Linked DNA regions of Homo sapiens. The protein of the gene in region 5 purifies or fractionates together with the protein of the main gene of each other region. This does not show direct contact. Each region holds a gene or a part of one and is shown on either strand. Other genes may lie near its edges. The genes, in order: AKAP9, COP1, MARK3, HCN1 and MTCL2.

The links.
Region 1: the proteins of MTCL2 (region 5) and AKAP9 purify together in Homo sapiens (affinity purification with mass spectrometry; one large-scale study listed by BioGRID and IntAct). This does not show direct contact.
Region 2: the proteins of MTCL2 (region 5) and COP1 purify together in Homo sapiens (affinity purification with mass spectrometry; one large-scale study listed by BioGRID and IntAct). This does not show direct contact.
Region 3: the proteins of MTCL2 (region 5) and MARK3 purify together in Homo sapiens (affinity purification with mass spectrometry; 2 studies listed by BioGRID and IntAct, with this or other methods). This does not show direct contact.
Region 4: the proteins of MTCL2 (region 5) and HCN1 purify together in Homo sapiens (co-immunoprecipitation; one large-scale study listed by IntAct). This does not show direct contact.

What each region holds. Positions count from the first base shown.
Region 1 is NC_000007.14:92,074,561-92,081,131, reverse strand, and holds part of AKAP9 (A-kinase anchor protein 9), read right to left. Parts: intron 4,278-6,571; coding exon 4,125-4,277; intron 3,437-4,124; coding exon 3,257-3,436; intron 2,054-3,256; coding exon 980-2,053; intron 1-979. UniProt on the Homo sapiens protein: Scaffolding protein that assembles several protein kinases and phosphatases on the centrosome and Golgi apparatus. Required to maintain the integrity of the Golgi apparatus. Required for microtubule nucleation at the cis-side of the Golgi apparatus.
Region 2 is NC_000001.11:176,045,214-176,051,784, forward strand, and holds part of COP1 (E3 ubiquitin-protein ligase COP1), read right to left. Parts: intron 1,112-6,571; coding exon 968-1,111; intron 1-967. UniProt on the Homo sapiens protein: E3 ubiquitin-protein ligase that mediates ubiquitination and subsequent proteasomal degradation of target proteins.
Region 3 is NC_000014.9:103,488,848-103,495,418, reverse strand, and holds part of MARK3 (MAP/microtubule affinity-regulating kinase 3), read right to left. Parts: intron 3,643-6,571; coding exon 3,385-3,642; intron 1-3,384. UniProt on the Homo sapiens protein: Serine/threonine-protein kinase. Involved in the specific phosphorylation of microtubule-associated proteins for MAP2 and MAP4. Phosphorylates the microtubule-associated protein MAPT/TAU. Phosphorylates CDC25C on 'Ser-216'.
Region 4 is NC_000005.10:45,258,097-45,264,667, forward strand, and holds part of HCN1 (potassium/sodium hyperpolarization-activated cyclic nucleotide-gated channel 1), read right to left. Parts: intron 4,715-6,571; coding exon 3,825-4,714; 3' UTR 1-3,824. UniProt on the Homo sapiens protein: Hyperpolarization-activated ion channel that are permeable to sodium and potassium ions. Displays lower selectivity for K(+) over Na(+) ions.
Region 5 is NC_000020.11:36,778,593-36,784,959, forward strand, and holds part of MTCL2 (microtubule cross-linking factor 2), read right to left. Parts: 3' UTR 1-6,367. UniProt on the Homo sapiens protein: Microtubule-associated factor that enables integration of the centrosomal and Golgi-associated microtubules on the Golgi membrane, supporting directional migration. Preferentially acts on the perinuclear microtubules accumulated around the Golgi.

The DNA.
Region 1 (6,571 bases), on a different chromosome or scaffold from region 5:
ATAAATCCTAGAGAACATTTGCTAAAATTAATGTTTCTTAGTTTCTTCTGACTGCTCCATTTAATGATGATGTTAATGAAATAAATATCATATTTAAAGACCATAAAATACAGTCTGTATCCATTATTTTAGTGATAATAATATGACTACACAGTGTTAAGTTAAATTTGGCCTGAGGCTGTCTCTGTATCTTGAGTTCCTATGTAAGGAACTACAATCTAACTTAGGAGTACGTAAGCAAACTGAAAACGTATCTTAGGAGTATAATAAACAGCCAACTCTTAGCTAATGACAAGCAGTCAACTGAGCAGACTGGGTCCAAATAAGGCAAACACCTAACTGTAACTAATCAAGCTATTTCTGTATTTTATTTGGTAGTTCTGTCTATAAATATTCACTGGCCACTGTTGCACAAAAGAGATTTGTGAAACTCCTCTGGTTCTGAATGCTACCCAATACGTGAATCCTTTTTTGTTCAAATAAACTCTCGTAAATTTAGTTTGTCTAGTTTTTCTTCTTCTTTTTTTTTTTTGAGATGGAGTCTCGCTCTGTCACCCAGGTTGGAGTGTGCAGTGGCGCGATCTTGGCTCACTGCAAGCTCTGCCTCCCGGGTTCACAGCATTCTCCTGCCTCAGCCTCCCGAGTAGCTGGGACTACAGGCACCCACCACCACGCCCGGATAATTTTTTGTATTTTTAGTAGAGACGGGGTTTCACCGTGTTAGACAGGATGGTCTCGATCTCCTGACCTCAAGATCCACCCGCCTCGGCCTCCCAAAGTGCTGGGATTACAGGCGTGGGCCACCGCGCCTGTCCTAGTTTTTCTTTTAACAAGAGTTTATTTTTTATAAGTGGTATATTTTTATAAAAACCTTCTTGTATAAATTGTTAGATGTAAACAGAACACCATATTTAGTAAATTAGCAATCAGCTTAGTTTCTTGGGGTATTTAAATGAAACTAATAAAATACAAAACTAACCTTGAGAACTTCAACATCTTGAGGGCTTCTTTTCTTTTCTTTCTCTCTCTGTTTTTTCTCATTGCCCTCCAATAGCTTCTGTAGTTCTAGCAGCTTCTTTTCTTTTTCTAAAACATTTTTTTCTGCAATTTCTACTTGTTCTTTTTCTAAAATCAAACTAGTATGCATTTCAACAACCTGGCTTTCTAATTCTGATATTCTCAAGGTTAATGCTGATATATCTGACCCCAACTCATCTTCTCTTAGTTGATTTAAATTCTGAATATTTGTTCTTTCAGGTTCTGATGAAATTGTTTGATTATCTTGACAGAATTTTGCATATTCCTGAACTGCCTCAAGTTGGATTTGACTGACAAGAGCAGCAGCCACTTTTTCTTCAACTATTTTCTGTAGGTTTACAATCTTCTTTTGAAGCATTTCTGTTTCAAACTGGCCTTGTTCTTGCATGTCTTTTATTTGTTTATAACACTGGGTAAGTTCTAAGTCCTTTGCACTAACAGTGCTCTCAAGTTGTAGCAACCTTGTTTCCAAATTAATTATGGAACCTTTGCCATTTTCTTCAAAAGATTTGAAGTATGTCTGATTTTCTAGGGATTTAAGAGCATCCTCTGTAAGGACTACTTCTAGTTCAGGTTTGTCTTTGCTCAGATGATCTATAGCCACGTTAACACTATTCTCTGGTATGCTTTGAATCTTTTCCACACTTTCACGTTCTCTCTTTAAGCTGAATAATTCCTGTGTTAGCTGATTCATTTTAAAATTGGTTTCTTTAAGTACATTTTTCATGAAGGTCATTTCTTCATTAGCGGTTTCTACTTGCTGTTCCAAGGCCAGCTTTTCAGCTATAACCACATCCAATTGATGTTTTAAACTGTCTGCTTCTTCTGAGAGGGAATGAGCATTCATTGATGTCTTCTGTCCAATATTTGCCAATTCCTGTTGAAGTTTTTCAATCACTTCATTGAGCTGCTCTATTTCTTCTTCTCTATTTCTCTTCACACATTCTTGATCACTCATCAAACATTCTATTTGGGTTTCAAGATCCCTTATCAGTTCATTTTTTTCTTCAATAACCTAATAATTAATGAAAAAGGTAACATACATAATATATATGTATTTACATTTTGAAAATTTTACTTTATTTTAGGGCAGTACCTCAAAGAGATGATCACACACAAAAATAATACACTACTTCTCAGACATACTACTTAATTTCATTATAGACCAATATCTCCCCCATCATATCAAACAAGGCTCAGAAAGTTCTGTTAAGTATAAAGTAATATAAGCTTTTAGTTGCTGATTCCCTATTAGGAAAATAGTCAATATCAATACTTCTTAATGGAAAAGGATGAAGTACGGAAATAAAGTCTACAACCGATGGCACCAAAGGTAATTACCTTACTTAACTCATATTAAATATTATAATTTATAATAGATTTGGTTAGAATAACATGATAAAATCTAAGTCACAGAGCCTTTCTGAAAAACATTAGAATCCTATGACAATATTAGGAGGGGAGAAAAATACATATAAATTATTAAACCAATGTGTCTTTGCTTTTTTTTTTTTTTCTTTTTGAGACAGGGTCTCACTCTGTCACCCAAGCTGGAGTGCAGTGGCATGATGAGGCTCACTGCAGCTGGGACTACAGGTGGTATGCCACCATGTCCAGTTAATTTTTATATTTTTTGTAGAGACAAAGTTTCACCATGTTGCCCAGGCTGGTCTTGAACTCCTGGGCCCAAGCAATCCGCCCACCTAGGCTTCCTAAAGTATAAGGATTACAGGTGTGAGCCTCTGTGCCTGGCCACCAATGTGTCTTAATAAATTAAAATTAATAAAAGAGAATTGGGCCAGGCGTGGTGGCTCATGCCAGTAATACCAGCACTTTGGGAGGCTGAGGTGGGTGGATCACCTGACATCAGGAGATAGAGACCAGCCTGGTCAACATGGTGAAACCCCATCTCTATTAAAAATACAAAAAATTAGCCAGGTGTGATGGTGGGTGCCTGTAATCCCAGCTACTCGGGAGGCTGAGGCAGGAGAATCACTTGAACCTAGGAGGTGGAGGTTGCAGTGAGCCGAGGTTGCACCATTGGACTCCAGCCTGGGCGACAGAGCGAGATTCTGTCTCAAAAAAAATAAATAAAATAAAATAAAATAAAATAAAATTGGTTTGTTTTTTAAATTCAATGGGGAGCAACATTATAACCATTTTGCCCTTTAAAACTCTGGTTCATATTAATTTCATAATCAATTTTAAATGAGTATACCTTGTTATCTGTTGTAATTTTAAGTTGCTGCTGGAGTTTCGTAACTTGTTCATTTAATTGGTCAATTTCTACCTCTTTTTCCTGTATTATTTGAGCAAATTTCCCAAATAGCACATGTTGGTCTTGAGTAGACATGGCATCAGATTCCTTTATGGCAAGTCCCAGTTTCTCCATGTCATCCTAGGAACAAAAATAATTATCACAGTTGGATATATCATTACCTATCATTTTCAGAACATAATTACAAAAGAAATCAGAGCCTATAACGTACAAATGAATAAAATCAGAGACACCATATGGTTACTGTAAATCAATAATTCTAAAATATTTTGATAAATGATCCCAAAATTTTCATTTATGATGAATTCAAATGTTCAGGTTGGGCTGAAAATAAGCTGTATGCAAATGTGTCTGCCTGTTAATGTTCCTCTGTTGAGTATTATTTAACAGCTGGATTTATCGAATGCTTAATAAAGCAATATAGGGGCCAGGTGTGGTGGCTCACGCCTGTAATCCCAGCACTTTGGGAGGCCAAGACAGGCGGATCACGAGGTCAGGAGATCGAGAGCATCCTGGCTAACACGGTGAAACCCCATCTCTACTAAAAATACAAAAATTAGCCAGGCGTGGTGGTACGTGCCTATAGTCCCAGCTACTCGGGAGGCTGAGGCAGAATTGCTTGAACCAGGGAGGCGGAGCTTGCAATGAGCCGAGATCACACCATTGCACTCCAGCCTGGGCAACAGAGTGAGACTAAGTCTCAAAAAAAAAAAAAAAAAGAAAGAAATAATAATAATAATAATAATAAAGCAATATAGGACTGAAACTATGACTTATTTACAGATAAAAGTTTTTCTTAACTAATTACCTTAAATAATTTGTTTTCCTGTTCAAGTTCTTGTAGGCGGGTAGTAGATTCCTTTTTCTGTATTTCTAATTGCATATGTAATTGTTGAACTTCTTCATTCTTATTTTCCAGTTCTTCTCTAAACTGTTCTAATTGCTCTTCTAAGTTTGTAATCTTTAATAACAAAATTATCAAAAGAGAAAAAATGTTTATACAAACGTTTATCAAGATAAAATGAAGAGTGCTATATTAGCTTTACAAAGTATGCATGCTTAAAACATGAGTCATAAGAATAAAGGAATGTGGTTTTTCTAAGCCAGGTATAATCTGTGTTACCTGTGTGGTTCCTAGACATGCTCAAACTGGCCATCCTTAAACTATCCTACACAAAGCAGAGAGGAAACCTCCTGAGGAAGGATAAAAGGAGCCATTTCCTACCTTAGTCTCTTCTCCTGAAGCAGAAAAGAGTCATAGGAGGAAGGGAAAGAGTCCACATATTAAATCTTAGTTTATGTTACATTAAGTTGCTATCAAAAGGCCTAGAAAAGTTGTAGAACTGTTTGTTTTGTTAGCCACCATATAAGACTAACTCAATTTAGTCCAAAAATATCTAATTAACTTACTAAAAGGCCTGGCTGCCATGTGGTTTGTTAAGCAGAAGGAAGCCAAGATAGAAACTAAGACCAAGAGATCCTTAGGTCTGAATTACAAAAACCTTAGAGTAAGTGAATTATACAATTCAGGAGAAAATTAGAGAGCTCCTATAGGTAGGACAACAGAAATTTATTTAATCATTTTGAGGATGGATTATGAATAATGGTAAAGCAACTGCTTTTTGATGGTTAGAGACTGAAACGAATGATGAATATTAAGAATTATTTTTATATTTGAAAATTGGTTTTGACTGAGGACAGTAACATTCATTTAGCTCACTGGTTTGTTGCTACTTAATACAAAGTGAATGAATGATTTCCAAATGTGTATTTACCTCATGATCAAAACTGCTGATCAAAAAGCAAACTAAGATGCAGGAGCATCTCTGTTATCTAAGGCAACAGAGCCTATCCTCAGCAACACTTAGTGACAAGTGGCTCAGAAAGCAGCTTATGAATCATTTACTGCCTTAGAAACTGAAAGAGGGAATCGCTGATTACACACTAACACATCACATACTGAGAACCATATCTGAACACTGGCAAATCCTTAAAAACCAGTTAGCTTAGTATTTCCTAAACAGTATCAATACTAGTAGTAACAGCCATCACTTGTAACAGTTTACCGCTAAGCACTGCACAAAGTGCTTTATATGTATTATTTCTTAAAACCCTGTTACAACTTTATAAGATCTGTTCTGAGTATCCCCATTTTAGAGATGAGGATGGACGTCACAGAGAGGAGTAATTTGCTTTCAGGCCACATGGCGAGTATGTGGAGAAGCCAGCTTTTGAACCTGAGGAGTTTATCTCTGAATCTTCCACTCTAAACTATCACTTATCCTGCTTCTAATAACTAATGTCTAAGACTTACACTTAAAATTTTTTCTGTAACACTGGTTATTAAACTCAGTAGACACTGAAATACATTTAATGACTGAACATAAATAATTACCAGGTTGCTGAAAACTGCAATGATTATATCTTCTTCAAAGTGATTTAACATAGTATTTACAACTATCCCTACATTTCTGTAACTACTTTGATGACAAGGTATTATTTTAAAATCAACACATAAATAGTTATTTAAGTTCAAATTGCTGCCCTATCTCATACGAAATTTCCTTTTTTTATACAACAGTTTATGATCAATTTCTTAACTTTGTGACATGAAGCCTTGCTATTCAGTGTGGTCTCGAGAGCAGTAGAGTTGGCATCATGTGGGAGCATGCTGGGTGTGCAAAATGCCATGTCACACCCCACACTTGTGTTTTATTTTTTTTTTAATTTTTGACTCATTTTATTGTTTTACAGTAATCAGATAGGAAATGAACTCTATTATATATTCCTTTTTAATCTTTTTTAAAAAATTATACTTTTCTGGGATACATGTGCAGAATGCATAGGTTTATTACACAGGTACACACGTGCCATTGTAGTTTGCTGCACCCATCAATCCGTCATCTACATTAGGTGTTTCTCCCAATGCTATCCCTCCTGTACCCCTCACCCCCTAAAAGGCCCTGGTTTGTGATGTTTCCCTCCCTGTGTCCATGTGTTCTCATTGTTCAGCTTCCACTTATGAGTGAGAACATGTGGTGTTTGGTTTTCTATCCTTGTGATAGTTTGCTGAGAATGATGGTTTCCAGCTTCATCCGTGTCCCTGCAAAGGACATGAACTCATCCTTTTTTGTGGCTTCATAGTATTCCATGGTGTATATGTGCCACATTTTCTTTATCCAGTTTATCATTAATGGACATTTGGGTTGGTTCCAAGTCTTTGCTATTGTGAATAGTGCTGCAATAAACCTATGT
Region 2 (6,571 bases), on a different chromosome or scaffold from region 5:
GGATAATGCCTGATATATAAGAATTCAATAAACTTGTATCTAATTCATGTTATATCCTCTTCACTTAGGACATAAACTATAACAGATTCTCAATGATGAGTGCCACAAATGAATGGGGAAGCTCACCAATTATCGATATAGTATTTTTATAAATGAACTAGAAAAAAGAAAGTTATAACAAATAAATTATACAAAGACTGTAACAAACATACTATGTATGCCATTCATTAAAGATAAAAAAGGTTCAAGGATGGCTATTTTGAAAATGTTCAAAGTTCTATACAAAGTTATTATTAGATGATTTCCTCATATAATTCTCTTTTAAAGCCAGTGCTCATGAGAACAGCTTGGGAAGCTTGTTTAGAAGGAAAAAAAAAAAAAAAAAAGCAGATTCTAGAATTCTTCTGAGATTTTTTGGGGAGCAGATCAGGAGTAGAGTCTTAACATACTGTTAGTGTTTAAGAGTATTTTAGGTTTGAAAAGCACTGCTTATAAAGTATAATCTCTAATACAGAAAACATAAACACCATTCCTTCAGTGAAAAGCAGAATATTCTTGTAAAAAAAATTCTTAAAACTAGAAACAATTCTAATATGTTGAGATATGTGCAGGCTAGGGGAAAAATTCCTGATGTTCAAATACTATTCATAAGCTACATTAATCCTCATTCAGTACTCCATAGAGTCTCCAACAACCATGTCCAACAAAGACCTTTATTTGATTAAGTGAAAGAAGAACTTTAATTTGGCAACCAGAAAAAAAAAAAAGGCTAACCTCACAAGAAAAAAGCAACCAATATCTGTAAGAAAGATGATATAAGTAATAATATATACTCTGTATACATAGTACAATAATAGTGTTCACCATGAGTAAAAAGTGTCATGCAAAGGTAAAATAATCTCATGATAATTACATATGCAAATTGTTACATCTATACTGCATCATGTCAAGAAAATAATGTAAATACCTGATTTTCGAATTGCAGGTCATTTCATTCTCAGGGTAATGAATATCCACTGCATCCTGGATGACAGTGTCATATTCATAGACTTTAATCTTCTTTGTAACTCCAGCAATCGCAAAATAGTCACAATCCCGGTCAAATTCAATACTAAGGGGAAAAAGTATGTAATGACAACATTTCAGAATTTGCTATTTTCTATTTCTAAAGTAATTCGGTCTACAAGGATAAAAGATCTACTTTAAATACCTTCAAATTGTACTAGACCTCATATCCAGATTAAGTAATCAACACATATCAAATTAAAAGTTGTTGAGATTTGTGTAATATAAAACTTTTAATATATACATTTGTATATCTACACAATTGTGCACAGGTGTACTTTTGTTCCAAGACACCTGACATGCTTTTCATTCAGTTCTAATAACCATATTACAGCTTACTGAGAAAGATTTAATGGCGTGAATCATTTGATATACTAAAAGTATGCCAAAAGACAATTATCAACTAATTTTTCCATACATTCTACTTATTTCCCTGCCATTTTGTGGAGGTAGTAGAATTTCACAATATTAAATTTTATTTTTAATAAATAAATTAGTATATAATTTGAATTACTGAAGCAATTGGGTGATGACAAGGGGATGGAATACATATAACAGAACCACTGAATTATCATTACTTTTCCCCAAATCCATACCTAATCCCCCTCCCCAAATATCTCTCTGAATTATAAAACCCCAATACACATTCCTCATATCACAAAAGAGGTTAAATAAATAAATAAATAAATAATCTCCTTTCCTTCAGCGTTATTCACTCCTCTCTTGCTGATCATTTTTATATAAGCTCCAAAACAAGCTATTTGAAAGCAAGTACAAGATCATACTCGCTTTTACAGAACTTGCAGCCTAAACACAGTTGTTACATAACCAGCTGGAAATCTAATTAGCCCAAAGGTAGTAAAAGTTGAAATGAATCATCACATACATTATTCCTCAATATGATTTAAGCATCTTTTCTAGAGGTTTAGCGATAAGAATTCTCACTGATCTACAATTAATTACACAATAATACCTAATATTCATTAATCATTCACTTACTAAAACATTTTGCATGTATTACCTCATTTAGTCCTCATAACAACCTGTGATATATGTATTATTATTATCTACATTTTACAGATGAGAAAATGAAGATTAGAGGTGAGGTAAATTGCCCAAAGTTAGTCAATCTGTAAGTGGCTGAGGTGGGATTCAAACACAAGGTAGTCTGGTTTCAGAGCTGGTGCTAATAATTACTATGCTTTATTACAGATCAAAGCTCTTAATGTAAAACTCAAAGTGTAAAGGCTAAAGGTTTAAAGGTTTAAAATCTATGTGTATGAATGTATCTTCAATATCTATGTATGTGTGTTTCTTCTCTCAAAATGCCTAGCTAGTGCTCTGTATCTATTAAGCATTCATTTAATGCACAAAATACAAACACCTACATACAAAAATACAAACATCCATTTTCTTAATATCCATTCACAGAACAGTTAATGATTAATGATTTATTAAGAAGCTTGCTGAACTGATGATGGTAAGTAAGAAAAAGACACATTAAGAATATTTCAGGCTGGGTTCGGTGGCTCATGCCTGCAATCCCAGCACTCTGAGAGACCGAGGTGGGAGGATCCCTTGAGTCCAGGAGTTTGAGACCAGCCTGGCAACATAGTGAGACCCGATCGCTACAAAAAAATGAAACAATTAGTGAGGCATAGTGATGGGTTCTTGTCTCCAGAGACTTGGGAGGCTGAGGTGGGAGGACTGCTTGAACCCAGGAATTTGAAGCTGCAGTAAGCCATGACTGTGCCACTGCACTCCAGCCTGGGTGACACAGCAAGACCCTGTCTTAAAAAACAACTACAACAACAACAAGGACTATTTCCCTTAAAGACACACATTGATACGCCCACTTTTCTTTACAGCTTTAAATGCTTCCTTAATTTTATATAATTTTTTAAAGAATTAAAATTCTTTTTTTTTTTTTTTTTTACAGAGATGGGGTCTCACTATGTCGCCTGGGCTGGTCTTGAACTCCAGGGCTCAAGCAATCCTCCCACCTCAGCCTCCCAAAGTGCTGGGATTACAGATTTCAGGCGTCAGACATGGTGCCCAGCCAATTTAAAAAAAAAATTTATTCAGTTAAGTGTCACTGACTAGGGCACAATTCAGCAAATGTTCCCTCCAGTAAAGTATGATACTATAGCAATGCAGTAGATTTATTTGTACAACCTCAATTGAACTGCTGCCTCAGCTACTACTTGCTGCCATGTGGATTTTAATGCACCATAACTATAATGATGACAACTATTCATCTATCCCAACTCAATTTATACCCATAGTCTCATGTCACTGAAGGAGAAATACTACTTTATCTGGTAAAGGACAGAGTTATTATCAGAACTGAAATCCTGTTTTTAATTTAGGAGGTTTTGGTATAGCTGAGACTTCAAGTGAACTAGTTATCACTAAATACTTTTTCTCCGCCTACTCATATACATAGCTAATCAACACCATTCCAATGTTGTGCCAGTAAAAGTATGCCATTACTAAACTATTAGTTTTAACATATATAATACGTTTAAACACTAACCTATCAAAATAATAGCTTAAATACATTACAGGGAGAAAACTGACACATAAGTAAAAATGCTGTCAAAAGAATTAAGGGCCGGGCGCGGTGGCTCACGCCTGTAATCCCAGCACTTTGGGAGGCCGAGGCGGGTGGATCATGAGGTCAGGAGATCGAGACCATCCTGGCTAACAAGGTGAAACCCCGTCTCTACTGAAAATACAAAAAATTAGCCAGGCGCGGTGGCGGGCGCCTGTAGTCCCAGCTACTCGGGAGGCTGAGGCAGGAGAATGGCGTGAACCCAGGAAGCGGAGCTTGCAGTGAGCCGAGATTGCGCCATTGCAGTCCGCAGTCCGGCCTGGGCAACAGAGCGAGACTCCGTCTCAAAAAAAAAAAAAAAAAAAAAAAAAGAATTAAGATGATGACCTAAATATGTCTATTATTTCTTCTGCTGGTATCCTGTTATTCAAGACAGCTCTCTCTCTTTTTTCTACATGTTATTATTTAGTGACATTAGCTAACTCTTAACTCTCATATTAAAAAGTTAACTTTTTGTTTTGATTTCATTGCTATTATTTTCTTACATTTTGGTTATGTTTTGTTTTTAATATATTAAGGTATCAAGAACCTGTAGAGTATGTTTTTAAAAATATTTTGGGGGTAACAAGATCCTTTTATACTGTAAAAATAGATTTTAATAGAAATATTAATCAAAAAGTATAAAGAATAATATTATTTCTAGAAAATTTTGATTAAAAGGGAAAGAAAGACAAACAGGTCCCCCCCCTCAAACCACCTTTTTTAGTGGAAGAACTTCCACATCACTAAGACTCAGGATTTAAGGACTTCTAGATACTGAAACATTTGCTCCCTATCTCTGACATATTTAATCATATATATTCTCAAACATGAACATAATGAGATTCTAAAAACAGATCATGAACTAACTGAAATGAACACTGTAATTTTCAGGTGCAGAAAGCTTTCTAGAACTAATACAAAACAGATGACCTCTTATATTAACAGTATGATATTTCAACTACTTTTATTATGAAATCTGATAACCCAAGCAAAAGTACTTCAAAAGTTAAACAGTGACTAGTTAGGCTGAGACTAAATAAAAGGTAAACTAATTAACTGAAATGTTGCTTATGCAATTAAATTCAAAAACAAACTTTAAGTCTTACTACTGCTATACAACGTTCATTTCTGCCATCCACTGTCAGCAGTAATAATTAAAACAAGAGATTTATAAAAATTTACTGCATGACAAATTCAATTTCACAGAATTTGTTTTTAATTTCAACATACAAGTATACTTTTGAAAAATCGTGTTTCTGGGGACATAAATTGCATTTTTCTTTCACATTTTGAAACATTTCAACTGTTAAAAGAGTGATTTATATCAACAGCTGAAATACGTAATTCAGCTGTAGGAAACTAGCTGTATTCTTTGTCAAAAATGTCATTAGTCAAGTGATTAAGCAGCAAGGCAAGAAACTGCACAGGACAGCTGATTAATGCATACTGCCAGTACAATGCGGCACAAAGCAATGAAAGCCGTCAATAAGCCCAAGCAGTGAATTTTGTCAGTGTTTCCAATGTCTCTCATATCTTTTTGCAATTATAAGTATTAACAAACATGGTGGATTAGTGTCCCTGGATGCTAGAGCCCAACTTATATCAAATTAAAATATAAAGTAAGAGCAGTTGTCAAAGGTCTCATTCTCATTCATTACCATGATAGTGTGCCTCAAGAGCAGGTAACTAAAACTTTAAGGAAACAAAATATACGTTTAGAAACTGGCCATTTTAACGAAAAGTGATGAGCAGATCTTTAAAAAAATACAAACACAAGTAAAGTAAATTAAGAATTGATGTTACTCAACTTTCTTCCAATCAATACTACTTGAAACTTCCATAACATACATAACACTTGAGATGTGTCAAGCATTGTTTTAACCACCTTACATAAATTATACAAGCTTCAAATCTCCACTGTATAAAGAAACTGAGGTATACTAATGTTAAGTAATTTGTCCACGGATACACCAGATAATTCAAATTTAAGCAACTGGTTCCAGAGTCTATGCTCTCAATCATCATGCAAACTTGCAATTTCAATTAGAACAAATGAGCTGGTCTTCAATGAACATATACACAGGCAAAATAAGAATAATAACACAGAATAATAATATACATTACATTATATATAGTGATAATAACACATAATTCAGCCTGTGCAACAATTTAAACACAAAGGGATAAAAAAAAGAATAAGGTAGCCTCACCGGTTTTATAATTAGTAGAAGAGATTACAGACAATATATGCAAATGTCAAATGATAGGACAAAATATTGATAGAGGAATTCAGGAGGCAATGATTATTGGGGCTCATTCGAAGAAAAGAATGAACCGTGAATATTTTCAGCCATCAAATGTCCAGAGTGCCAGTTATCTGCTGGATACTAACATAGCTGCTGAAAAAACCAAGATGTTAAAAAAAACACATTACAGTTATGTGCTATTTAAGGACATCTTATGTTCCCACAAATTATAATGAAGCTGAACAATTCCTAACTTAATGACTTGCAGTGCAACAACACGATTCTCAGGTTTGTGGAGAAGATGGTGTGAACAAACCTACCATGCTGCCAGTTGTATAAAAGTACAGCACACACAATTAATGTACAGTACATATACTTGAAAATAAACAACTGTTAATGGTTTGTGTATTTACTATACTATACATTTATCATTACTTTAGTGTATATCTTCTACTTATTTTAAAAAAAAACAAACAAACTGTAAAGCAGCCGCAGGCAGGTCCTTCAGGAGGTATTCCAGAAGATCTTATCATAGGAGATGACAGCTCCATGTGTGTTACTGGCACTGAAGACCTTCCAGTGAGACAAGATGTGGAAGAGATCACAGTGATTCTGTTGACCGTGACCGTATGTAGGCCTAGGCTAATACATGTGTTTGTGTCTC
Region 3 (6,571 bases), on a different chromosome or scaffold from region 5:
AACCTACGCCTCCTGGGTTCAAGCCATCCTCTTGCCTCACCCTTCCAAATAGCTGGAATTACAAGCATGTGCCACAACATCAAGCTAATTTTTGTATTTTTAGTAGAGATGGGGTTTCACCATGTTGGCCAGGCTGGTCTTGAACTCCTGACCTTGAGTGATCTACCTGATCTACCTGCCTTGGCCTCCCAAAGTGCTGGGATTACAGGCGTAAGCCACTGCACCAGGCCCTGATACTTTTTAAAATATGTGCCTTAATCTCTCCAAACTTCACCTTCAGTTTCTTTTACAAAATGGGGTGGACTATGGAGATTAAATTAAATGAGTGTGTGTGCACACTTGTACATGTGTATAAATATACTCATTTCACACATATAAGTGTATATATATGATACTCATTTTATACATAAAATATGCATATATATAATGTACATACATATTTATATGTATAAAATGAATATGACTGTATCTATGTATATAGACATCTACCTTAGCACATAATAAGCATTCAAATAATGGTAGCTTTGGCTGGGCGCGGTGGATCACTTGAGGTCAGCAGTTCAAGACCAGCCTGGCCAACATGATAAAACCGGGTCTCTACTAAAAATACAAAAATTAGCCAGGCGCGATGGTGGGCGCCTGTAGTCCCAGCCACTCGGGAGGCTGAAGCACAGGAATCACTTGAACCTGGAAGGCGAAGATTGCCATGGGCTGAGATCATGCCACTGCACTCCAGCCTGGGCGATAAAGTGAGACTCTGTGGGGAAAAAAAAAGAGGTAGCTGATATTTTTATCAATGATAATCTTGTTTCCTTTTTTCCATTATATACATGTAATAAAATCAATGCTAGTCTTTTTTTTTTTTTTTTTTTTTGAGACAGAGTTTCACTGTTGTTGCCCAGGCTGGAGTGCAATGGCGTGACCTCGGCTCACCACAACCTCTGCCTCCCAGGTTCAAGTGATTCTCCTGCCTCAGTCTCCCTGGGATTACAGGCATGTGCCACCATGCCCGGCTAATTTTGTATTTTTAGTAGAGACTGGGTTTCTCCATGTTGGCTAGGATGGTCTCAAATTCCCGACCTCAGGTGATCCACCTGCCTCGGCCTCCCAAAGTGCTGGGATTACAGGCGTGAGCCACCATGCCTGGCCAATCAATGCTAGTCTTTTTTTTTTTTTTTTTTTGAGATGGAGTCTCGCTCTGTCATCACCCAGGCTGGAGTGCAGCGGCGCGATCTTGGCTAGATGCAACCTCCGCCTCCCAGGTTCAAGCGATTCTCCTGGCTCAGCCTCCAGAGTAGCTGGGACTACAGGCGAGCGCCACCACCCCTGGCTAATTTTTGTATTTTTAGTAGAGATGGGGTTTTGCCATGTTGGCCAGGCCTGTCTCAAACTCCTGACCCCAGGTGATCCGCCCCTCTTGGCCTCCCAAAGTGCTGAGATTACAGGCATGAGCCATCCGGCCCAGCCCAATACTAGTCTTAAAATGACTGAAAAAAGAGTACAAAGAAGAAAAATAAACTCAAAGTTTTTTTTTTTTTTTTTTTGAGACACAGTCTCACTTTGTCACCCAGACTAGAGTGCAGTGGTACGATCTCGGCTCACTGCAACCTCTGCCTTCCGGGTTCAAGCAATTCTCCTGTCTCAGCCTCCTGGGTAGCTGGGACTCCAGGCGCCCACCACCATGCCTGGCTAATTTTTGTATTTTTAGTAGAGATGGGGTTTCACCATATTGGTCAGGCTGGTCTCAAACTCCTGACTTCAGGAGATCCACCCGCCTTGGCCTCCCAAAGTGCTGGGATTACAAGCATGAACCACCACGGCTGGCCAGGAAGGAATGGTTTATTCTGGGAGTCACCAGACTCTTCTCAGATTGAACTCACTGTCTCTCTTGCTGGCTGGTCATGAATGGGTGTCCCAAACCTGGCAAAGCTCTTTGGCTGATTCTGTTTTGCCCAGTTTAAAATGAGGTGGCTTAATAAAGGGGCTAAGAAGTGAGTAAGAGGGTAAATAGAAACCTTCTGATGCGTCTGACTTCTAGTTAATGCTAATGGATGTCAGAGATCCTCCCTAATCTAGGCGGAGGTTGAAGTTAGCCAAGATTGCACCACTGCACTCCAGCCTTGGCGACAGTGAGACTCCGTCTCAAAAAAAAAAAAAAAATTAAAAAAAAAAAAAAAAGGAATACTCCCTAATCTATTCCATGTCCTAATAATAAGTAGATCAGACTTTAATGTGACTCACCGAAGTTTCAGATGATCGAATACAAGATTACATTTAGCTTAGTTTAAATAATGGAGATGGAGTGAAATGAAGTAATAGGCTATAGGCCATAGGGAATGCAGAAAAACAGAGGAGGGTACTGATCATTTCAGACTCGGGAAAGACTCCTACTGCTGTCCTGTAAGCTACAGATGACAAATAAGAGGGTCCGTCCTAGGCAAACCTGCAAGATACCACAGACAGACTCATCCACAGCTAGGCTTAATTTCAAAACATTTCTCCAAGGATGTCCTGAAACTGCAGGGGCTCTTGGGTTTCCTGGGCTCCTTCTCGGAAAGGTGCCTTTCACTATTGTTTACGGTTCAAAGTGGTATCCTTTCTTTTTCCTCTTGAAGCAGCCAGTATTTCTGGGCTTTTGTAACAGGTAACAAGGTTACGGAAATGAAGTTAATCTCAAAGGACCCTTGAGAGTTTACTGAGGCCCCAGATGCTAGCCTACTAGACACATGGAACATTTTAAAAAATTTCCAGGACCATCAGCCAAGAATCATGCAGCATTTAATAAAAATAACTTAATAATAGTAACATTATTTTTTGATAATAAACCAGAGATTTTATCTCCAAAACTATACCATTTAAGGACATTACCTTGCTCTCAATATAAATTACTAAGACTGAGAGAGAAACTTTCAAGATTTGGACTCTTAAGAAATTTACTGCTCCTTAACAACAATAAAGTGAGAAAAGAGAAGCTGTCTCTTTCCTCTGGGGCTGGAGATGATTATGAAAGACATGCATGGTCTTTCCTGCTGATTGTTACAGAGTGCCAGCCCCCCACCCCACACCAGAACTCGAGGTCTGCCTGCTCAACAACAACGAACATGCCATGCAGACAGATACGTGAGCAAAAGGAACAATAATTAAAGAACAGTAACAAAAACCTCCTAAATGCTAGTTAACTTTTAGTGTTATGAAGACTCTGAGCTCTACAATTTCTACTTTAAAGGTTTTAAAGTATAAAGTTAGATATATATAAAACCAGAAAACCATGAGCTGAAGGCAGACTGAAAAGCATCCAGGTAGCAGTGGCTTCACACAACAAAAAAGACATCTTTCCTTTTGCTCTATGTGTTCACTCCAAAACAACCAGCACCTAGCACTTACCTCCTTGTGAGTTTTGAAGTTAATTTACTAAAGAGATTAGTGGAGCCTCGGCTTCGAGTCTGGGACAATGGTGTGGCTTCATGGGACAGGCTGGGAGAGGCAGGAGGGCCATTATATGTTGCGGTTCGCCGTTCCCGGGGCTGGCCGTGGAAAGTGCTACGACTGGCAGTGCCTCTTGGGAAGCGGATTCGATCTGGGGTGGCTGCACTACTGATACTGTGTGTTGAAGCAACTGGAGTTCTCTGATCAGGAATAGTGCTATGAGATCAGAAAGTAAGAAGCTCTCAGAACATGATATACAAAAATTTACAGTCACAATATACCTTTTATACACAGTGGAGAAAATCGGGTATAAAAAATCCAGATCCAAGGGGTATTTTATAGGACTTAGGAGCAAAAGGTAAGTTAAGTGGGAAAGGGTACCAAAAGAACAATACATAATGAGACAAAGCCTCATGGAGTTTAAGGGACCAGTATTATATATATTTTCAAGGACAAGATTAATGCAGGGAAATTCTAGGACAGAGAACAGCTAACTCAAACTTTTCCCCTTTGCTTCCCTCTCAAATTGCTTACATAGAGAACTGTGCCAATACGAAAGAAATAAAGGATATGCTGGCGTAACTGAAGAACAGGCAACTAAAAAGTTTTGGAAGTAAACAAATGATATATGTATAAAATTCCACATGCTGAAAGCAACTTGGGAGGAGCAGGAACTTCTTATACATTTTGTAGTACGCGAAGGCACGAAGACACACAATACACAACCGAGGACATCATGACAAAAGATGTGCTTAACTAAAATCACATGGAGGAAGGACGCCTTGTGGACAACTGTAACAAAATCTCAGACTATAAAATCCACAGCACAAAATTAAGAAGCAGTGGGTACACATTAGTTTCACAAAGAATGTGCATTTTTCTTACATAGCCTTGAAGTTATCTCCTTCACTGTCTATTGGAGGTAACATCATCTTGGGGTGCCCAGAGGCTGACATGGACATCGACTTCTGATGTCTCAGCCGACAGGTAGATGTACAAACTGAGGCAGGGCTAGCTGCGTAAGCGAACATTTCTGTCAGGCTGGGAGGGGTTTGGGTTCAGGCAGAGGCAGAAACACAGTATGAAGGAGCAGTGACCACAGAGCAACCTGTGTGTAATGCACACACCTTCCTCCCAAGCCATCTCATTTCTGGTAAAGAATAAAAATCTCCTAAGCTTGTTTTGGAGATTCTGGAGCAACTGCTAACCTATAGTTGCTTTTTTTTTTTTCCAAACAGTAATCATAAAAATCTATTACCTTAAAATAAAATAGCAGATTACATGTTTGAATATCTGTTTCTATGAGAGGGACAATGTCCTCTGAGGGTATGCACAAAATAAAACCTATTCTAAGAGATGCCTCAATTCAAATCTAAGTGGTAAAATGAATATATAATATGAGCATGCTATGCTCTCAACCTGTTCCCAAAACACACTGACATATTTTATTTTTTCTTTATTTATTTTTTTTGTAGAGACAGGGTCTCGCTATATTATCCAGGCTGGTCTTAAATTTGTGGCTTCAAGTGATCCTCCCGCCTTGGCCTTCCAAAGTGTTGGGATTATAAGTGTGAGCCACCACACCCGGCCCGCACTGATGTATTTTAAATGAATTAATAAGATTACAGGTATAGGAACTAGCTGTTATATAACAGTATCCTATGTTGTTTGGTGTTTTTTTGAGACAGGGTTTTGCTGTCACCTAGCTGCAGTGCAGTGGTACGATCATGGCTCAATGCAGCCTCAACTTCCTGGGCTCAGGTGGTTCTCCCACCTCAGCCTCCTAAGTGGCTGGGAATACAGGCGCACTCCACCATGCCTGGCTAATTTTGTATTTTTAGTAGAGAGAGTTTTGTCATGTTGCCCAGGCTGGTCTTGAACTCCTGGGCTCAAACGATACGCCTGCCTTGGCCTCCCAAAGTGTTGGGATTACAGGCATGAGCCACCATGCCCAGCCTTCCAATGTTGTTTTAACAATATAGTCTAGAACCTTCCTAATCAAAGGACATTTACTCCAAGATAAAAAACAGTCAGCAGAGCCCCCTTCTCCAAGATGGGCAAATTCATCAGAGCAAATTAACTGTTAACAGACATGGTAAGATAGAGTGGCTGGAAGTCTGCAGTTTCATCTAACACACACAGTTACCGGACAAAACTACCCCCAGGAGTCTCACTGGGACACATTATTTGGAATTCCAGCTCAGTAATCATGTCCTTGGAATTCAAGGGCAGTTTCTTTCCTTTAAGGATAAGTAGGAATACAGCTCTTCCAGTGTCTTTCTGCAGAAATCCTTTGGAAGGATTAAAACCTGGAAACTGGCAAGTTCTTCCTTTCCCTCACTCCCCATACACAGACTAACGACATCTTATTGGTGTCAACTTCCTAGTAGCTCTTCAGGTGGCCCATCTGCTCCACTTCTACCAGGGCCTCAGTATAGAGCCTCGCTCCTTGTCTTCACTGGGTCCCCTGCCTTTGCCCCAACACCTCCAATCTATTCACCTTACAGCTGAGAACTTCTTAACATATAAACCAGATCTTGTCACTCATCTGCTCATACTTCTACAGAACACCAAGTCTTTGGTAAAAAGTTCAGTCTCCTCGACTTGGAGTGCAAGTACACATCCCCAGGCCCCTGAAGTCTGGCCCCTGCCATCTCTCTAGGCTTTGCCTTCTATCATTCCCTCCTGGAACTCAACTTTCTAGCCTTCCTGATGATGTGTGGTCCATTGGTCAGGCACCAGGTCAGAAAATGTTTGCAGGAGTTATTCTCTTGGTATGGAGGGCTGGGATCTTTCTATTCACTCTTCAAAAATGAACCAGATGTCGTCATCTCTATGAAGTGTTATCTGATCCATTTTCCCTCTGAGAGTTAAATCACTTCTGTTTTTAGCTCATGCATGCCACATTGTATCCTAGTGACCCTTCTCTGCTGGAGGTCCCTGAAAACACAGCCCAAAATCTTGTCAATGTGCCCCCCACCAGTGTAAGCAGAAAGCCTGGCAGGGCAGGTATTCAACAAACGTTCTCCTAACAGAGCAGATTAATCAATTAGCAACTGGAATTCTGATAGCCCCAACATAAAGCAGATACGTCTTTAAAATCAAGAACTGCTTGTCCCTGAATTAAAACATTTTTATTTAAATT
Region 4 (6,571 bases), on a different chromosome or scaffold from region 5:
ATTATAAACAGTGCAAGTGAGGGCCATAGAAGCAAAGTAACATAGTAAAATTAACAAATATAAAAACCTAAGCTGAAAGAGGAGGTATGGAGATTTTTTAAATAGTCCTGAAAGATAATAGAGATTGCTCATAATTTGAAGTAGACATAATTCAGGATTTGAAATAAATCATCTAAAATTTTAAACATGTCATATTGTTTAAATCATTCTCTGTCCTATAGGAATGACGGTAATAACTTGACTATGTACTTTGTAGTGTCCTGAAAATAGTATGCTCAGTTAAGTTTATAAATTGCAAAATAACCATCTCTTTAAAGTGGAACAGCATTCATCAGGGAATTGTTCACTTATGAAGAGGTCATCCAGACCTGGAGACAAGCTACTTTTTTGGTGAATAGAATATATTGCCATTGCTACTATTTATCCTCCTTGTTTTCAGGAATGCTTCACTACTTATTCTCATTATGATAAACTCTATCTCAGGCTTTTAGGTATCATTTAAAACCCACTTGTGTGGGGAGGTTCTATCACTCTCCAAATAACTTTGCAGGGCCCAAGGCTATAAATATGAATATATTTATACAAACCTATTTTGTTATAATAGGGCCTTGGGCCTACTATACAAACCTATTTTGTTTAAGGCTATAAATATGAATGTATTTATATAAACCTGTTTTGTTATAATAGAGCCCAAGGCCCTATTATAACAAAATAGGTATGTTATAAAACTATTATAACAAAATAGGTATGTCATAGAACTATTATAACAAAATAGGTTTGTATAAATATATTACAGGACAATTATTTACCATTATTACAGGAAAATTATTTCTCATCTGTATATCCAATAATTACACAAAATGGTTGTGTTTTGAAGTTGGAGAACAACCACATTCTAAAAAGGCACAGAGCAAAAAAGAAAATAAGCTCATATTTTACTATACGAAAAAGGTAAACAAAGAAGTGGTTGAAAAATCCATGTTCTATTTAAAGTCCTCTCATTCCAGAATTATAGAATATAATTGATTTTATGTGATTATCAAGTATAAGCTCTTGGAAATTTTATGATGTAAAAATAGAGGCAAAGCTGTACTCATTAATAAAATAAAACATTTGATTAGCATATATTGATAAAATAAAATATTCATGATTGTAGTTTATTTTTTGTTGAATTTATTAATAATCTTTATATATATTTATATATGTATGGCTTTGAGCAAAGACAAAAGAAATACTCTAACTCATCCCTGATCATACAGTTGTTGTAAGAATCAGCTATTCTATTATCTTTCCAGCAGCAGAAAGACCAATGAATAATACATTTCTTTCTGTACAGATTAAAACTCCATACATACGGGCTTCACTATGTACAGAGAAAAGAGGTCACTTTTCAACTAGCAATGGACCTTTATATTACAGGAATGTGAGTCATTTTTTTTTCTTAATCTAAGTATATATACATTCATACATATATGTATATAATTTACCCTGTACCTTTTTATTAGTTTAATATATAAACCTTAGTTTTTTTGTCCATTCTATTACAAAGTGAATAAAAATTGTATGGTTGCACTGAAAGACCATGCATTTCAATTTTGCTTATGTTTCCCAATAGTGCTCAAAATAAAAAACCAAAAATTTATATATATAAAAATATTTCACTACCAAATCCATTAATCCTATCAAATGTAAACCTTTAATAATTTAAAGGACCAATACGTAATCTTAATAAATTGAAGTTAATTCTCATATTTTAATAAAATAAAGGAGTTTTGTACTGATATGTAAATGGTCTTGCAGCTTTCCCATAGGTTCTAGGTAGACTGAACAATCCCTTTCTTACAACAGTATTCCTGACATGCCATCATATGTCACCAGCATATTGATGATTACATTACATCGACTAGCAGTTAATTACTTCCACACCAGTTGGGATTTGTTTGAAATTAAACATAACAACTCATTTTGGTATTATAGGTATTATATCCACAAAAGGCATAACAGGCAGCAAGGATCCACTTTAGAGTTTCTGCTTTTGTTTTTGTTTTCTGTCCTCAAGTCTATCTGCAGGCCCTGTCCCACATAATGTGTGATCTCTGTATGTTCTTAAATGTATTGCCAGTGCCAGAGATACTGAAGACCTCCACTTTAAGTCATGCTCTTAACTTGGGTTATTTACCGCAGCCAGTTGTTAGGAATCTTTCAATTGTGTTCCAGTCATACTCCACATGTGTGGGATGCATTAGGCACAAATGATTACTAAGGGAGTTCTTTGAGAAGAAGCAGGTGCTCACAGATCATGTAAAGAGTTAAGAAAACAGACAGACAATGCTCATAGACGTTCAACTTTACCCCTGCTTTCTGTCACCATGTCTGTACTATTTTCAACACATTAAAAATGACAAACCTCCTATCTAAGGGCTACGTTAGTCACCACATGCCTTAAAGTTTACTAACCATTTAGTTACAATATACATAGAGCAAAATGTGTGTTCCCAAACAGACGTGATGCTGTATTGAATTTATTTCTTTAAATTAATACCATAGTAAATTACCAGCTACAGTGAAGACACAGACAACACTTAACTCCAAATCAAGCTGTGGTTTACAAATAATTATTTAAATAATAATAGCAATAATATTAAATAAAAGTGAAAACCTCACTTCTAGACTTAAGTCAGAGATCCAAGTCAGCCTTATAGGAATTATAAGATAGGCAATTAATGAATTGTTATGCTTTTCTAGAAACGAGAAATACTGTAAGCCTTTCTCTACAATGACTGATTTGAACCTATTTTTTTTTCCCCAGAAGCATGCAGGGACTATTTTCAGATGCTTGATTATGGCAAGAAGAAAGAAAAGTAACGATTTTTGGTGTAATACAAGCAATTTGTAGATTCGAGCATACAATTTTGCATAAAACATTGCAGGTTAAAATAATATTGTAGGTTTCAAGCCATTGCATTACAATTGAATAATTCTCACAATCAGGTTTTGTAAAATTTAAAACTCTAAGTTTTGAAGTGAAGCAATAAAACTAAATTCTTAAACAATGACTTTTACCTTCATACAACACAGAATAGCTATTTTTATTTGGGTTGAAAAAGTTATTTACAACTAACATTGATCGAGTCTTGGTAAAAGTCCGATAACACATGAAGACAAATATTAATTTTCCCTCAGCTTTCTGAAAGATCAATGAACATGTTTGAGGTTAGTGATATTCTTAACAAACAGTGGCAATGCTAGTCTCCTACGGTGGCCAAGCAAGTAGTGCATTCTTTAACCTAATTTGAAATTGAAAGCACCGAAATACAATTTAGATCTATAAAATGGGATTTGTTATTTAATTCTCCACCATTAATGATTAACAATTTAGATGCAGAGACACAGCTAATGAAAGAAAGTTTTGATTGGTGCTATTTACTAGTTCATTTGAGTTGCCTTTTTAAAATCAGTTTTGTTTCCATTGAATCCAAGAACTCTTCATAAAATAGAGAAATATACATATCAAAGGACTTAAGTAAAAGTAGGTTAGAAATAAATAATCTTACAACGACATTTTAAATCCTTTAATGATTTAAAGAAAGGAAGACATATAACACTGAATGCTAAACAGGTCTTTTGACCCTCTCTTGGGAATTTAGATATATATTTTATAGTATATGTATATATATTTTTACATTTCACGTGTAGGCCACAGCTGTCTAAAATATCTCTTCATAGTAGGCTAGAGGGATCTATCAGGAGATAGAATAAAATAAGATCTGAGTATAGTCTCAGTTTATGAGAGTATTTCTTTCTGCTTTGACAATCAGCAGGGATCATAAATTTGAAGCAAATCGTGGCTTTTCTGCGTCTGGGTCTGTGTTTAAGACTGAGGAAGATTCTCTTGGAAGAGCAGCTGCTGGTGGAGGGGGTGCTGGAGGGACTCCTCGGTTCGGGGGGATGGCTCCCGACGACATCTGTCGGAAGAGGGTGACGCGCTGCGGGACAGTGCTCCTGCCCCCTGCCTGAAGGCCCGTTCCGGGGACCGCCGTCACGGGTTGAGGGATGGAGGCCAGGGACTCGCCCACAGTGGGATGAGGTCTGGAAATCAGAGTGGACACCTCATGGGGCAGCGAGGGCTGCGAGGCGGAGAGTGGCCTGACTTCCCGGGTCAGGTTGGTGTTGTGAAGCGCCTGCGTGCTCTTGTGCACTTCATTTTTCGGCGTGGAGCTGCCAGGTGTCTGTGGCTGCGGGGACGGCTGCTGTGGCTGAGTCTGCGGCGGCTGGGACTGCTGTACCTGCTGCTGCGGCTGCTGTTGCATGAGTGACAGCTGGGAGGCGGTGGGGGAGGCATAGTGGAAAGTTCGAGCGGCCAGAGGGCTCTGTACAGGAGGGCTGCAGACCGCGGTGGTGTAGGAGCAGGGTGACAGGATGGCTGATGGCTGGGGGGTCTGTGTGCTGGGACTGGGGGAGTGCAGGTTGCTGTGAGACAGGCTGGTCGCTGTGTACACCGGTGGAGATTGTGTCCTCATGCGGGAGGTCGGGGTCGTAGTAGACGATGTGGAATTCAGGGTTGTCATTTGAGGATAATTGATGGGAGCGATTGCCTGCACCATCTCCCTGTCATGTTTCACAATCTGCTTGAGGATTTCGTTCTCCTGATTGTTGAAAACACCAGTGTTCAGATCCTTCTGGAACTTTTGCAGAAGAATTGAATTTTTCTTTCCTGTCAGCAAAAGAAAGATAGGCACTTAGAAAGCCTACCAATGACTGATGACAACGCCAAGTGAGAGTGGCTCCTGCAAACAGAAGTATAGCTGTGCTTCACAGGAGAGGCTTAAAAAGCCAGTCACTCACCTTTACACACCAAATACCAATGTGGCTCCTACCTTTCACACTTCCTGTATTTCTCTGGGAACTCTTACCTTCTACTCAAGTTGAACGGCCTGTAATATGGCAAAGAGCCACTTTACAGAAGAAATGGAGATATTTAACATGAGGGCCACCTTGAAGAATGGGGGAAGAAAGGGCTTTTGGAATAGGATGGGCTTGGAATCAACATTTGATTTTAAAGTTACTTTTTCAAGAAAGGACCATGGAGACATAAGCGAGAACATTTGAACACGTACTATGTGATAAGCACTCTACAAAAGACCTTAGGTAGATGATTTTATGTAACCCGCGACCCTGTCAGATAGGTGTGTTCATAATCTCATTTTACCTGAAAGGAGATCAGGACATGAGAAGACTAAGAACAGTGCCCAGGAAAACAAAAAAAAAACATGGTTGGCAGGTAACAGGGCTGAGAAAGACCATATACACAAAAAAGTGATTGCACATCCTTGCTATGGAAAATGAACCAACTGCCCCTGTCTCATCTGTGTGCTTGCTAGAAACTCAGCCTCCTGGGCCTGACCCCACTTGCTGAATCAGATGTTGCATTTTACTAAGATCCCCAGGTGATTCCCAAATGCAAATCTGAGGAGGACTGTATCAGGTTTTGCTTTTGACCCAGTGTCTTACACCAGTCATTCTCAGTCCTAGTTGGATATTTTTCTTATCTCTGGAGCTTTAAAAAATACTAACATCCACTTGTTCCCTACCAATTAAATCTAAATAATCATACATGGGCTCTGAATTTCAGTAGTTTAAAAGCAAATTTCCCCAGGAAATTCTTTTTTTAAAATTTATTATTTATTTATTTTATTTTATTTATTTATTTTTTTGAGACGGAGTCTCGCTCTGATGCCCAGGCTGGAGTTGCAGTGGCACCATCCCAGCTCACTGCAAGCTCTGCCTCCCGGGTTCATGCCATTCTCCTGCCTTAGCCTCCTGAGTAGCTGGGACTACAGGTGCCCGCCACCGTGCCCGGTTAATTTTTTGTATTTTTAGTAGAGATGGGGTTTCACCATGTTAGCCAGGATGGTCTCCATCTCATGACCTTGTGATCCACCCGCCTCGGCCTCCCAAAGTGCTGGGATTACAGGCGTGAGCCACCACGCCCAGCTTCCCCAGGGAATTCTTAAATGCAGCCAAGACTGAGACTGACTTTATGATCTTTCCTCTTCTGAATGGTTGTTGTGAGGACCAAGGGCATAGTGCATTGCAGGCTCTCAGCTCCCTCTAAGACCTCAATAAATTTTACCTTTTCCTGCCATCATCTTCTGAGTGGTTTGCAATACAGCTTTTCCTGCCATCATCTTCTGAGTGGTTTGCAATACTAGACAGTCTCTGGCATAATAATTATTAGAATGAATAGTGGATTGGTGAAAGAAGGGGAAAGTAGTGACTTTTCTATGGCATCATTGATACACTAATCTCCAAGTGAATATGGTAACTGAAAAGTGAATCAATTTGCGATATTGCTAAATAAACTAACACATTAAAGGTAACAAAATATATTTTTGAAGATAAATATGTATTGTAATTTCATTGACTGCTAGGAATGCAATCATTTTAAATGACTGCCAAAATAGTTACCTCTCCCTACTTACAGACTGTCCTAATTTCCCAAAGAACAAAAACTCCTACATTAGTAATAAATATAAATGCTTATTTAGCATATTTGCTTAACTAACTGCAG
Region 5 (6,367 bases):
CCACATCACCTGGGAAGCTGCTGGAAATGGTCTTGGGGTGAGTCCCCCGTGCAGAGAAGTAAACTAAGGCACAGAGATCAGTGGCAGAGCTGAGAGAGGAGCCAGGATACCAGGGCCCAGTAGAGAAAGGATGGGGCTGCAGGACCCTACAGCATGAGGGGTGCTCTAGGGACCACAGGGCCATCCTGGTGCTCATCACAGGATCACAAGACTGGGAAGGTAGGAGAAGTGAAGACATCTGCCCAGACCTGGGCCAGGTTTCCAGATTGCCAGCTGAGGTCCCTCTTCTTGGGAATGGTTTGAGTGGCTTCCAAATAAAGAGTGACAAGGCAGCCAGCCCTGACTGCCTCAGCCCTTCAAAGATGTTTAGAGAAAACCAAAGGTCCCTTCCTCAGGGCATGGTGTCCAGAAAGCTGGTGAAGGGCAGGAAGGGAGGGGAGCAGGGCCGTTGGGATAGACAAGCAGCAGAGGAGGCTCCAAGGAGGGTGAGGAAGGAGTGGCAGGGCTGGCATTGGAGAGAAGCCCTGAGCAGGAGACTTGGGCCCAGCATCATGTCCTCAGTCCCCTCAGGACTTGGGTCTGTATATTTTGCAAACTGCAAATGCTGTTGGGTTGGGAGGGGTAAGGCATAGAGTTGGGGTGAACTGTAGATTCTGCCAGGACAAGCAGCTCTGAGAGTGGTGAGGTCCAGAGGAGAATGGAGAGGATGGTTGGATACTGAATGGACAAAGAGATGGATCAATGACCAGAGACAGGGAGAGAAGAACCTGTCAGGCAGCACCTGCTTTACAGTCAAGGCCATCTGGGCCTGGGCAGGGCAGGGGAGGAAAAAGGAGGGATCCAAGCCCCCCCCACCCACCACCACACACACGCCCATTGCAAAGTGCTGGGGCTGCTGCTGGCAGGCTGCTTACAGAGAAGACAGTGTGGCTTAAGGGTGGCACCGGGGGGTTGCTGGGGCAGGGTGAGCCCAGTGAGAAGGGCTGGCAGGGCTGGTGCCTCCTGATGCATTGGAGGAAGAGGCTTTTTTTTGTGTGTGTGAGAAAACACAAAATAAATAAACACAGAACCAGGACACCACCACATTTGAGAGCAAATATCAGAGTTGGGAAACCACAGACGCGGACAGGAAGGCTTCCCTGGTAGGAAGCAGGGGGACAAGAAGCCAGTTACTGAGGTTACGGGAAAATCCGCACGAGGCAGCAGTGCTGGGAAGAACATCCTGGGAGGACTGAGGGCTGAATACTATAGTGAGCTCCGGACCCAGAAGAGGAAAACCTGGCATGGACCAGGGCCACTCCATTTGCTGGCAGGAACCAGCCAAGGAGAAGAGGAGGCAGGAGGACAAGAGGCTTTGGAGGGAGATGATAAAGAAAGAATGGGTGAGTGGTGGGAAGCAGACTGAGCCCAGAGAAAGGAAGGGGCTAAACCAAGATTACAGAAAGTCAAAGCAGTGTCTCATTCACTACTGGGGATGCAAGACCTGTTAGGAGTCAGGAAACCTGGGTTCTGGTCTTGGCTCTGCCTCTGGTTTGCGATGTGACCTTGGGTGAGCCACTGCCTTCTCTGGGCCTGATTCCTCATCTCAAAAAATGAGGGGGCTGGACACAAAAGGACAAATACTATATGATTCTACTTAAAAGAGATACCTAGAATAGGCCAATCCACAGAGAAAAAAAAAAAGTAGAATAGAGGTTACCAGGGACTGGGGACAGGGGGAGTGGGGAGTTACTGTTTAGTGGGTACAGAGTTTCAGTTTAGGATGATGAAAAAGTTCTGGAGGTGGCAGTTACACATTGCAAATGTACTTCGAGACACTTAGAAATCTTTAAAATGGTAAATTTAATGTTATGCACATTTTGCCATCATTCTTTTAAAAAGGAAGGGGTTTAGACCAAATTATGTTATGGCCTCCTTGCTATTCATGAAGACTAGTGAAGGGGGTGAGGAGAGTATTGTCCCCCACCCCAGGGCCAGGGCACTGAAAGGCTGGGCTGGGGACACTGAGTGTGATCAGATCACTTTCCATTTGTGTAGAACCTTACACTTTTCCAAGGAGACTCGCAGGCACAGTGTTGCAGTTGGTCCTCACCACAGTTACATGGGGTGGGACATTATCCTCACTTTACAGATGGGGAAACTGAGGTATAGACTAGAAACATGATCTCGCCAAGGTCAATCACGTTGGTGGATTATTTATTTTTTTAAATAGTCACCTGGAAAACATCCTTGCATCTTAGGTTCACCCGTTGACTCACCAACTGGCTCAGTGGCCCTTGATGAAAGGATACATGCTATAAATTAGTAGAAGAGTTCGTCTCCTGGGGCCAACATGCTTGCTTCCCATAATTGGATGATAAAAATTATAAATCCTGATGTGTTTCTCTTTTTACCAATGGCTGTCAGGAAACTCAAGAGTAAAACTTAATTGCATGATTATGGGAATTACACCAGTTAGATTTACAGAATAATTTCTCTTGCTTTTTTACTTCTTATTTTTATTTTACTGAACCCCTATGATTAAGATTGTAAATAGCCTCTGATGCTTTTTGAAAATCCTGAGTAATTAAATCAGTTTGGTTGAGGACTCGATCCCTTAAGTCCCTGCTCAGTGCTCTTTTTAAGATACAGCATCATGTTTATTGGTTAAAAGAAAGATGAGGCTGGATGCCGTGGCTCACGCCTATAATCCCAGTACTTTGGGAGGCCGAGGTGGGTGGATCACCTGAGGTCAGGAGTTCAAGACCAGCCTGGCCAACATGGTGAAACCCCGTCTCTACTAAAAATAAAAAAATTAGTCGGGTGTGGTGGCACACACCTGTAATCCCAGTTACTCGGGAGGTTGAGGCAGGAGAACTGCTTGAACCTGGGAGGTGGAGGCTGCGGTGAGCTGAAATGGCGCCACTGTACTCCAGCCTGAATGACAGAGCAAGACTCTGTCTCCAAAAAAAAAAGAAAAAGGAAGATGACCTGGCACGGTGGCTGATGCCTGCCTGTAACCCCAGCACTTTGGGAGGCTGAGGAGGGCAGATCACTTGAGCCCAGGAGTTTGAAACCAGCCTGGGCAACATAGGGAGACCCCCTGTCTCTAAAAATAATAATAATAAATAATAAATAAATAAATAAATAAAATAAAAAATAAATCTAAAAAAACTTAAAAAAAGAAAGATAGCCTAATAATCAGGGCCACGAACACCAATGGTGTGGCCAATAGTGCCTAAGATCCCCCGGGGAGGGCTGGTTTTATTTTTTATTTTTTTTGAGACAAGTCTCATTCCGTTGCCCAGGCTAGAGCGCAATGGCACAATCTCGGCTCACTGCAACCGCTGCTCCCCACCAGGTTCAAGTGATTCTCCTGCCTCAGCCTCCCAAGTAGCTGGGATTACAGGCATGTGCCACCACACCTGGCTAATTTTTGCATTTTTAGTAGAGACAGGGTTTCACCATATTGGCCAGGCTCGAACTCCTGAGCTCAAGTGATCCACCCGCCTCAGCCTCCCAAAGTGCTGGGATTACAGGTGTGACCACTGCACCCACCCCTCAACCCCAGGAGAGTTTGTTAAACATGCAAATTCAAGGTGGGGCCCAGGAATCTACATTCTGAACATGCCCTCAGAGAATTCTGCTGAATGGGGACCTCAGATCACCCTCTGGAATACACAAGGCTCAGTGATCTAGAATGGACTTGTTTTATGCCTGGGTTGGCCAGCAGCATATTCTGGGTATTCTGGACCCACCAAAAGCCCCCAGCAGGGCAGCGGATTTGCACAGCAAACAGGACAGAGTTGGACCCAAGTTCTCATCTAAACTCAGTGACTTCTCATGCTCTGGGATGAGACCTGTACCTCAGTTTCCTCACAGCAAAATGGGCGCACTAACCCATGTCCTGCCAAGGCTGCCTCCCAGAGTTGTCCCTGAGAGGTCTGAAGGAGATGTGGGGTGGGAAACGATTTCTTTTTTGAGATTGGGTCTCACTCTGTCATCCAGGCTGGAGTGCAGTGGCGCAATCTCTGCTCCTGCAACCTCCGCCTCCTGGGCTCAAGCGATTCTCCCACCTCAGCCTCCCGAGTAGCTGGGATTACAGGCACGCACCACCATGCTCAGCTAATTTTTTGTACTTTTAGTACAGACAGGGATTCACCACGTTGGCCAGGCTGGCGTTGAACTCCTGACCTCAACTGATCCGCTCGCCTCAGCCTCCCAAAGAGCTGGGATTTCAGGCGTGAGCCACCATGCCCGGCCAGGGGAAACGTTTTCTATATAGTAAAGTGCTTTAGGCGGGATGTGCAGGGGATGATGATAACCATTGTTATTACTATTATTATGGAAGAAGTAGTGGGAGCTTGGGGGGTCTGGTGAGGCTAGAAGCAGGGGACATTCTAGATAGGAGGGGAGAGGGAGAAAGAGCCTGGACGCTGGGTGGGCCAGAGGAGAAGAGGCTGGGTGATGAAACCATAAAAGTGCATGCGGGTGGACATGATGGAACCATGTCAGCAAGGGTGTAAGAGGGTCAAGTCTTTGGGCCCTTGGCCTTGTCACATCGGAAGCCAACCGGTAGAAGAGTGCACCTGGGGACACCTAGAGGTGGGACCCATCTTGAGTTCATAGAAAGCAAGACCTCTTAGAGGTCAGCCTTTGGTGGGAAATAAACTGGGGGAAAGGGCTGGCACAGGGTCAGAGGATTGGATTCTGATGTCTCGTGTGTGCAGGCCTAAGAGCCACTGATGCACCAAAATGACTTGATTTGCATTCCAATGAAGTCATCATTCCAAAAGGGGCTGATTTGGCTCTGGAAAGAGGTGAGACATAAGAAACATGAGGTTTCCCAGTTTAGGGCCATCATGCCAACTGGTCCCCCATTTCCGCCAACCAACTGATGCCAACCCCATGGACCCAAGCCAAGTGGTCTATGGGGGATTGAGCCCCGAGGGTTCCTTGGGACTTTGGTTGAAGAGAGAGTGGAGATGGGGAAAACAGAAAGAAGGATAAAGGAGGAGAAGAAGGGAATAGCAGTAAAAGGCAGAGAGGCAGGAGGAAGGGGGAGAACGGGTTCGAGAAGGGCAGCATTCCTTCTTGGGACCCCAATTCTCCAGGGAATCCCCACTGTGGGTCAGGCAGTTTTCTGCTTTGGGAATGTTACCAAGACTTAAAAGGCATTTGAAGAAACCAACAAACTTAGAAATCACATTCCAAAAGAGTAGAGAATTTTTACAAACCAATCCCCCCACCCCAAAAAAGAAAACAACCAGTTACCAAGTAAAATGCTAAAAACCGAACCAAACCAATATTTACATGTAACATTTTCAACCCCATCCAGCCCCACGTCCAGAGGCTTCTGCAGGAACAGTGATGAGTGGCCTTGCACAGTGGCATGCAGGAAGTAGAAACTGGGGCTTTACTGAAAACCAAGGTCTGGCTGAGACAACAAAGATGGCAAGGACAATCCTGGACGGTACGATGGTAAGGCTGAGTGGTCCGTAGGTCTTGGGGCTCAGGTCCCACGGGGATTTCTCCCCGAGGCTGAGTACGCAGCCTCCCTGGCTGTCGCTCTGGGAGGTGGCAGAAGGCCTCTGGTGGCTTGTGGCCTGATGTGAATCCCCTCACCTGGAGATAACCTTGGAGGGCCCCCCTGACCTCATGGGTGAGAGCAGCAGCATCCAAGAGCGGAACTGGCCCACAGCTCCACTGGCTGCCTGCTCTGCCCACACCAGTCACTGGGGCATGGAGGAGGCGGCTGGCGGGACTGGCATGACCCTGGTGTTCAGCCTGCAGGGAAGGGAGATGCAGGACTTGGGGTAACTGGTCCAGGTGATCCCGAATGGGTGGGTCTGGGAACTGGCAGGTGGGAGGTGGGAGTGCAGGGGCGCCTCCAGAGTCCTGGGGGCAGATCAGCAAAGCTACTGGCTTTTGGTCTTCCTGATGGGCAATTCTGCAGACAAGCTGATCCATCCTGGTGTTTCCACTCTGGGTCCCCAGTCAGTTACAGGAAGGCTGATGTCTATGTGTGTGTGGGGAGCATGTGTGCAACCAAAAGGGGTTCACCGGCACCAAGGCGAGGCCATGGGAGGCGCTGCCCCACATGCTGCAATGAGCCACATCGAAATCCAACCAATGGCTCAGGCAGCTCACAGGGGACGTGAGGAAGGGCGGGCAGCAGAGCTGGGGCAGGGAGAAGAGCCGTGAAAGGCCATAAGGCTAAGGAGAGAGGCTGGTGAAAAGGCTGGCAGGCTGGTGAGAACCGAGGCAGGCTGGGAGACACTCAGGTTTATGTGCAAAGCTGCGATAAACAACATTCTCAAAGTTCAGTCCTGTTTTCCTGTGAGTTCTCATTTGGGAAACTTGGAGGGATCTCCACACTCTTAATAGA